Linked DNA regions of Homo sapiens: region 1 is reported to be linked to region 2. The links are microRNA targets in miRTarBase. Many come from high-throughput screens and were not tested one by one. Region 2 holds a microRNA gene; the other region holds the end of a gene's coding sequence.

The links. Region 2 holds the annotated microRNA hsa-miR-5003-3p (UACUUUUCUAGGUUGUUGGGG, at 2,435-2,455, shown strand). A microRNA usually pairs through its seed, bases 2 to 8, with sites in the 3' UTR of a target mRNA and lowers its output. Matches are read on the target gene's strand: a 7mer-m8 pairs with bases 2 to 8, a 7mer-A1 pairs with bases 2 to 7 and ends in A, and an 8mer does both.
Region 1: the mRNA of ZBTB38 is a reported target of hsa-miR-5003-3p. Seed matches in the 3' UTR shown: 7mer-m8 at 349-355.

Annotation. Positions count from the first base shown.
Region 1 is chr3:141,445,572-141,448,982 of GRCh38, reverse strand. It overlaps ZBTB38 (zinc finger and BTB domain containing 38), which reads right to left. Exons shown (of 6, transcript NM_001376113.1): 6 at 1-3,411. The coding sequence ends at 3,007. LOC124906291 (a long non-coding RNA gene) reads left to right here. Exons shown (of 2, transcript XR_007096120.1): 2 at 1-344. Among named protein-coding and RNA genes, the nearest start is that of RASA2, 40 kb to the left of the region's middle.
Region 2 is chr5:172,659,788-172,663,198 of GRCh38, forward strand. MIR5003 (microRNA 5003) reads left to right here and starts at 2,378; the gene lies at 2,378-2,476. The region is part of intron 1 of NEURL1B (neuralized E3 ubiquitin protein ligase 1B); the gene reads left to right. RefSeq lists enhancers at 1-22, 318-407.

The DNA of each region.
Region 1 (3,411 bases), not on the chromosome of region 2:
AGAATGCTTCCTGGAGAGCATTTCATTCTCTGATTTATCATTATAAGATCAGGCCTATCCAAAACACTCAATCATCAGAAGACTTCAATCTCTTTTATTCTGCTTTTTTCCTAATGTCATAATCCATTTGACTCCTAAGCATGTAAGTAGGTACCACGGAATGTAAACAAGTAAGGAAACAGAAATAAACTGAATAATACGTGGAAACAAAGCTGTGACTCACACAGATGAAATAGCTGCACAAAAGAAATAACATGAAAACATTTAAAAAGAGACTTAATGTAGGAATAAGCTATTTTAATCAAGCAAAAACAAATTTATATCCATTATTTCTAAAAATAAAATTAGACTTTTCCAATCCTTAACATCTGCATTTAATAATATCTTCTAACCAAAATACAGATGCTAAAACAGCAAGTTACATTATATCTTGTACAGCATACAGTATGTTCACTGTTTACACTTACTTTAATTCTAGTTGGTCATGTACTCAATGCATACTTAAACATCACTCAATAAAATTTTCACAATTAACAAAAAAATGTGACAAGGCTGTCTTAAAACGGCTCTGCTATAAATTGTATAGAATATACAGAATTACAAAGTCAAGTATTTTTTTATCAAAATATACACCCCTCCCTGAAACTAACACAAGCTATCAACATTTTAAATGAATACAATTATAGAAAATATTTGCAAAATTATTTTTTCATGTATAAATATTCTGCCATATTTACTTTGGTCTAGAATTATCAGCATACAAGTCCACTTAAAAAATATCCACATATAAGGGCTGGGAGAGAGACATCACTACAGGTAATTTTATATTTGGGGTTAACTCAAATCAAAATGACTAGAATATACAGTAAATGTCTTTGATTAATATTATTAACTGATAAAACAAATTAGTGGATCATAGGATTGCTTATTCAATATTCTAATTATCAATTCAAAAATGATTTTCGTAAGCCCTTTGTGACTATCTCTTTAATAAAACCCAAATGAATAGTGTAGGGTGTACATATATACAATGTATAAAATAAAGTTGAATTTGCTTGCATTTTCCCATTTTTCTCTACTTATATAATACTGTATGTAAGTGAAAGTAGATGAACAAAAGATAAATGCAGATACAATAGTGGGGTTACTTAACAGCAAGGTACTACAGTATTAAAAGGTCAACTTTAATCATGTCCTTTCCTGGGCGTTTAAATGCTTTCTTACCCACCCAAATCCATACTAAGTCTTCTTCATGGAGACATCACACTTGTAGACAGAAACCGGAGTCCTTTGAGCTACTTCTTCACAATGATAACCTTCCAATCTTCGATAACCTTGGGTTTCCATCTGTCAAATCCAATGAACATGAATGACTGCAGGTCACGCTGAAACTGCATTCCGGATTCTGTTCACACTGGTGATCAAAGGGTAGAAATGTTTTCTCTCTCCCTTCTATTCTGGCAGTTTGAAAAAGAATCATGAGTTCCGGCTTTCCAGGAACCTAGTCCACATGATAGAATATGCTGTAGGGCAATTAGATTTGAGGGTAGTGTTGATGGTGTGGGTCAAAGAACATAAAAAAAAAACTTCAGTGGGTTTTTAGCAAGGGGTCTAGATGTCTGCAAATATGAAGACAGAGCATCTGGCTTTGTAGATATATTTCTGAGTCTCATAAGTAAAGGATAGAACCATGTCACTCCACATCCTACCTTCCCACCCCCTAAAAACAAAGCTACTGTTTTAGGCAAGGAAGGCCATCACTTCTTCTTGCCCACTCAAGTCATTAATGGGTGGGGTGGAGGGTGGGGGTTCCTTTGTCCTTTTGCTTTATACTAGTCTGTACTTGTGGGCTGCATAATCTCCAACAAGGCTAGTAATTGTAGGGATTAGGCAGTCACTTTCAAGTGCCTGGGAATTCACTACTGCAGTGTACCTTGCACTAAATCTCTTGGACAGTCCTTCAGTGGAATGGGAGATGGCAGGTTCCACTTGAGCCCTTAAGTCTGTCTGGAATAGACCCCCACATCCATGGCCTTGTGGTGGTTGGAAGACTGCAGAGAGTTTCAGAACAATGTGACCCTCTTTCATTCTCTGAGATGAGGCCATTGCAAAGTAATATGCAGCACAGGTAATCACAGGTAAATTCTGGGAGGGTGTTCCCCCATAGATAAGGCATGACCTATGTTTTCTGTGAATTGAGTAGACCAGTTCTAAGAACAGCTCAGCCATAACTTCAAGGGAACAGCATTCCATCTAAAAGCATTCACATGCTCTTAAATCATATTCAAAATGCTTTCTATTGATTTTTACATCAGTCCTCATTATTTGCAGATCTATTGCTCCTCATAATTCTCTACAGGGGATATGGACAGTTAAAAGTTATAGTGATTTATATATGTATTTTACAAGGTTTGTGTTGCAGAAAAGTAGTTCTACATAATGTATGAATGTCCTACTTTAGGTTACTCATTATGCACATAATTTCAGTTATATTGTTTAAGTATTTCATGTGTATCCATTAATTTAAACAAATTTTAATAGTGCAGAAGCCAGATGGGAATAAAGACCGTCACACAGCTTATTACCACGTAACATATTTACGAAGATGCCATCTTCAGGATATCTGACCCTTATTTTCTCCAGTGACTAAAGACAGTTCAGCAGCCAGTTCTTATTAGCAATTATTAGAAAGTTTTAAACTAGGCTAAAATTAAACTCCTTTTTTCACTGGTAGAAATACCACAGCTAAGAATTTTATTAACTTTCACAAGAAACTTGGGATATTGGAGGAGTCAGCTATTTTGTTTTTGTGCACTTTGCATAAAGTTAATGCTAAAACCCAAAGTAGATATTAGGATCCTTTTTCTGGAATTTTCACAAATGAGTTTTTTTTTTTTTTAATTTCACTCCTTCATGACTGTCACATGGACAAAATGAAACTAAACTTAAATCATAACTAAAAAAACCACCAACTATATTTTTGAAGATTTTTCTAATTCTTGCCACTCAAAGGACAACATTTTCCACACCGGTTTGTATGTTATCCTTTTGGTCATTGTCTTCTGAACCAATGAAATGTTGATTCTCCAAGGGATTTGAGTTTTCGTGGCACACGTCACCTATTTTCTCCTGCTGACTTGGGCTTTTGAATAAGTGTTTCTTTTGGTGCATTCCAAGGGCAGCAGCTGTTTTGCAAATTTTGGGGCACTGGAAGCAGGCATAGCCCTTCCCATTATGCTCCCGAATATGCCTCTGCTCGTGATTCCTTTTGGTGGAGAGATACAAAAATCTCTGAAAGCAGAACTGACAGTGGTAACGCTTTTCTCCAGTATGGATTCTTTCATGGATTTTGAGGGTCTCATTCAAGGTGAATGCCTTGTTGCAATACTGACAGACGAACTCCTTCAAGCC
Region 2 (3,411 bases):
TCAGCTGATTCTCATCTCCAGGCCTTTGCTGGTGCTGTTCCCTCTGCCTGAAACACACTTCCCCATCCTTTGTCATCCTCCCAGCCCTGCTTCCTCAGTCTGCAAAGCAGCTCCCCTGAGAAGCTGTCGCCACTGCCCCAGCCCTCCCTGGCCACCACCCTGTGCAGTCATGGGGTCTGCTTATGTCCATCCTTGCAGCTGGTCTCAGCTCGAGGGGGCGGGGACAGTGTGTGACTTGTCAGTGCATGTACCCGGCAGCCAGCGCGGGCCCTGGCCCAGAGCAGATGCTCTGTAAATGTCAGATGAAGGAGGAAGTGATGTACTCGAGAAGGAATGAGGGCACATTCCCCCCACCTCTCACTGCAGTGGGGCCCTAGCCCTGGGAGCCGGCGCCTCTGAAGTTGGAGTTTCCTGGGTCCCTTTATCAAGAAGAGACCACAGTCAGGGGGCCCGGCAGAGGGTCGGAGTCAGCTTGGGAATCCCAGCCCTGGCTGAGCATGCTTTGAGGGGGCGTCGGGATGACCTCACCCCCTGGGAACTCTCGCATCAGAGCCCACTCAAGCTGAGAGGTCTGCCACTTAGGCCTGGATGGAGTGAGCTTTTCTCCCCACAAGCAGCATTGCGACCTCTGGCCTCTCTGGGATGTCCTTGCAGCTGTTGACGGGGTTTTGTTTGCAAAGCAAAGGGAGCAGAGTGGCAGTTACCAGCGCGGGCTGGCCCTTTTCCCTTGGGGATGCTGGCCAACCAGGCCTCTGAAAAAGGGAACAAAGTCCAGTAAGCTGGTGTCTGTCTCCTGAGTGCCTGTCACTGCCCCATTTGGCAGAGGTGAGGAAGGGTTGGTTATGTTTTTTCTTTTCTCTTTATTTTTTTTGAGATGTAGTCTCCCTCTGTCGCCCAGGCTGGAGTGCAGTGGTGCGATCTCAGCACACTGCAACCTCCGCCTCCTGGGTTCAAGTGATTCTCCTGCCTCAGCCTCCAAGTAGCTGGGATTACAGATGCCCGCCACTACACCCGACTAATGTTTGTATTTTTAGCAAAGGCAGGGTTTCACCATGTTGGTCTCGAACTCCTGACCTCAGGTGATCTGTCCACCTCGGCCTTACAAAGTGCCGAGATTACAGGCGTGAGCCACCGTGCCCAGCCTGGTTATGTTTTTTTCCAGCCCACTTTTAAACCCACCAATGGAAAATGGAACTTTGTTGGCAAAGGTGACTGATATCTTGGCCCCTCTGGATATGGCGGGAAGCCTTGCTAAATACCAGCCTTGCCTTTTCCTCTCTCTAGAGCACAGCCTGCCCCCCTCACCCCAACACACATGAGCACCATGTTGCTTCCTACTGCCAACAGTGCTGGTTTACATTTTGGACTGGGGCAAATGTCATTTGAACCAGAGATTTCTCACTCAAGGTCTACAGTCCAAGGACGCATGTTATAAAGGTCCAGGTCCAGGAAGCCCCTGAAGTTGAATATCAGATTGTGCATGGAGTCTGGGTATGTTTCTGGGGGGAAACCCTGAAGTTGAATATCAGATTGTGCATGGAGTCTGGGTATGTTTCTGGCGGGGAAGCCTCTATAGATTTTATTGCTTCTAACAAGGTCCATGAACCATTCCCCACGCCCCGCCAACCCAAAAGTTATGGCAGCTGCCTTGAAGAAGGGGTGGGGTGGAAGAAAGGGCATGAGCCTGGTCCTCTCAGACCCTCAGTTTCCTCATCTGGGAAATCAAGGTGGTAAAACCCACTCTGCAGAGTTTTCCTGAAGATTAAACCCAATAAACCAAGACATGTACCCACTACATAGCAGAGGCCCAGTGAAACTCCAGTGTAATCCTCATGTTCAAAGGAAGAGGCAGAATAGACGATTCTCCCATTTGGCAATTCCCTTTCCTGGTGGAGAGGAATCTGCTGAAAACCTCAGCCAGCATGCCATCTGCGGAACTCCAGCAGGCTGGAAGCCGGCGTCTCGGGGCCAGAGTATCGGGAGCTGTTGCTTCCTGCCATCCTCCTGACGGTAACTGCCATTTCCTTGGGCTCTTTTTAGATCAAAGGAAGGGCTAGGCTGGAGAGATGAGTGGGGACCATTCAGGGGATGGCACAAGGCGCATTTAGGACGCCTGCTGGCATAGTTTAAAAATAGGCTTCTGTCCTTGGACACCAAGGGGAAGCAACCCCAGGGTTTTCAAGAGGCCTCTGCTGGCCAAGGTTATGAGCCCTACACGGGAGAAAAATGTTTCAGAACGTATTTTCCCAGCTGCCACAGGTAGGTATCTCTGACCCAGGAATAAACCTTTCCTAGTCAAAGGAACTAAATAAGGTGGTTAAAGGAGGAGATCAAGTGTTTAATGAGCACCTACTACATGCCACACACTGTGTGTCTGATGAGTTTGCTTTGTGTCATCCTCACAACAACCTTGCAGGGTAGAGATGATTTTTCCTACTTTTCTAGGTTGTTGGGGGCTGGGGCAGGGGGAACAGAGAAGTTAAGTACGGACCTCAAGATCACACGGACCGCAAGATCACACAGCTAATAAATAAGCAAAACCAGAATTTAAACCCAGGTCTGACTCCAAGCCTGTGCTCTTTTTAACCACCTCTCAAACTGTGATGTAGAAATAAAAAGCATGAAAGAGATGGAGGTGAGGGGCTTACCCAGTGGTTGGACTTGTTATTTCCCATGGGGAAGGGAAGGGAATAGCTGTTTATTTAACATCTACTATGTGCCAGGACTTCTGCCGGGATTTTTCTATGCTCTCATTGCCCCTGCCAGCAGCCTGAGACAGGGGTCTAAGGTCACGTGCCATTTAGACATGACAAAACTGCAGTTCTGGGAGGTACAGTGACTTGCTCAAGGCTCTCAGACAAATCAGTAGCAAAGCACAGGCTTTCATCCAGAGCCCATGAAGTAAATCTCAGAGCCACCCAGGAAGCAGTTCTTATGTTGACCGGCCTTCCAGAAAGACTTGCCAAGGCTGGGCAGTGGTGACCCTGACAGCCAGAGTTCCCTCCTCCCTAACCACCCACAGACACTCATCACCCACCCTCCAAATCTCTGCCATGCATTTCGAGTCTGGGCACTGTTTCCTTGACTAACTGCTGGAAAGACACTGCCCTCTAGTCTTGGTGGGGCTGGAGCAGCCTGTGATTAACCATGGGGGTTAGGCTGGGCATGGTGGCTCATGCCTGTAATCCCAGTACTTTGGGAAGCTGAGGTGGGTGGATTGCTTGAGCCCAGGAGTTCGAGACCAGCCCCAGCAACCCTGACTCTACAAATAATAATAATAGCCGGGTGTGGTGGCACACACCTGTCGTCCTAGCTACTTGGGAGGCTGAGGTGGGAGAATCACTTGAGCCCGGGAGTTTGAGGCTGCAGTGAGCTGTGATCATGCCACTGTACTCAGCCTGGGAGACAGAG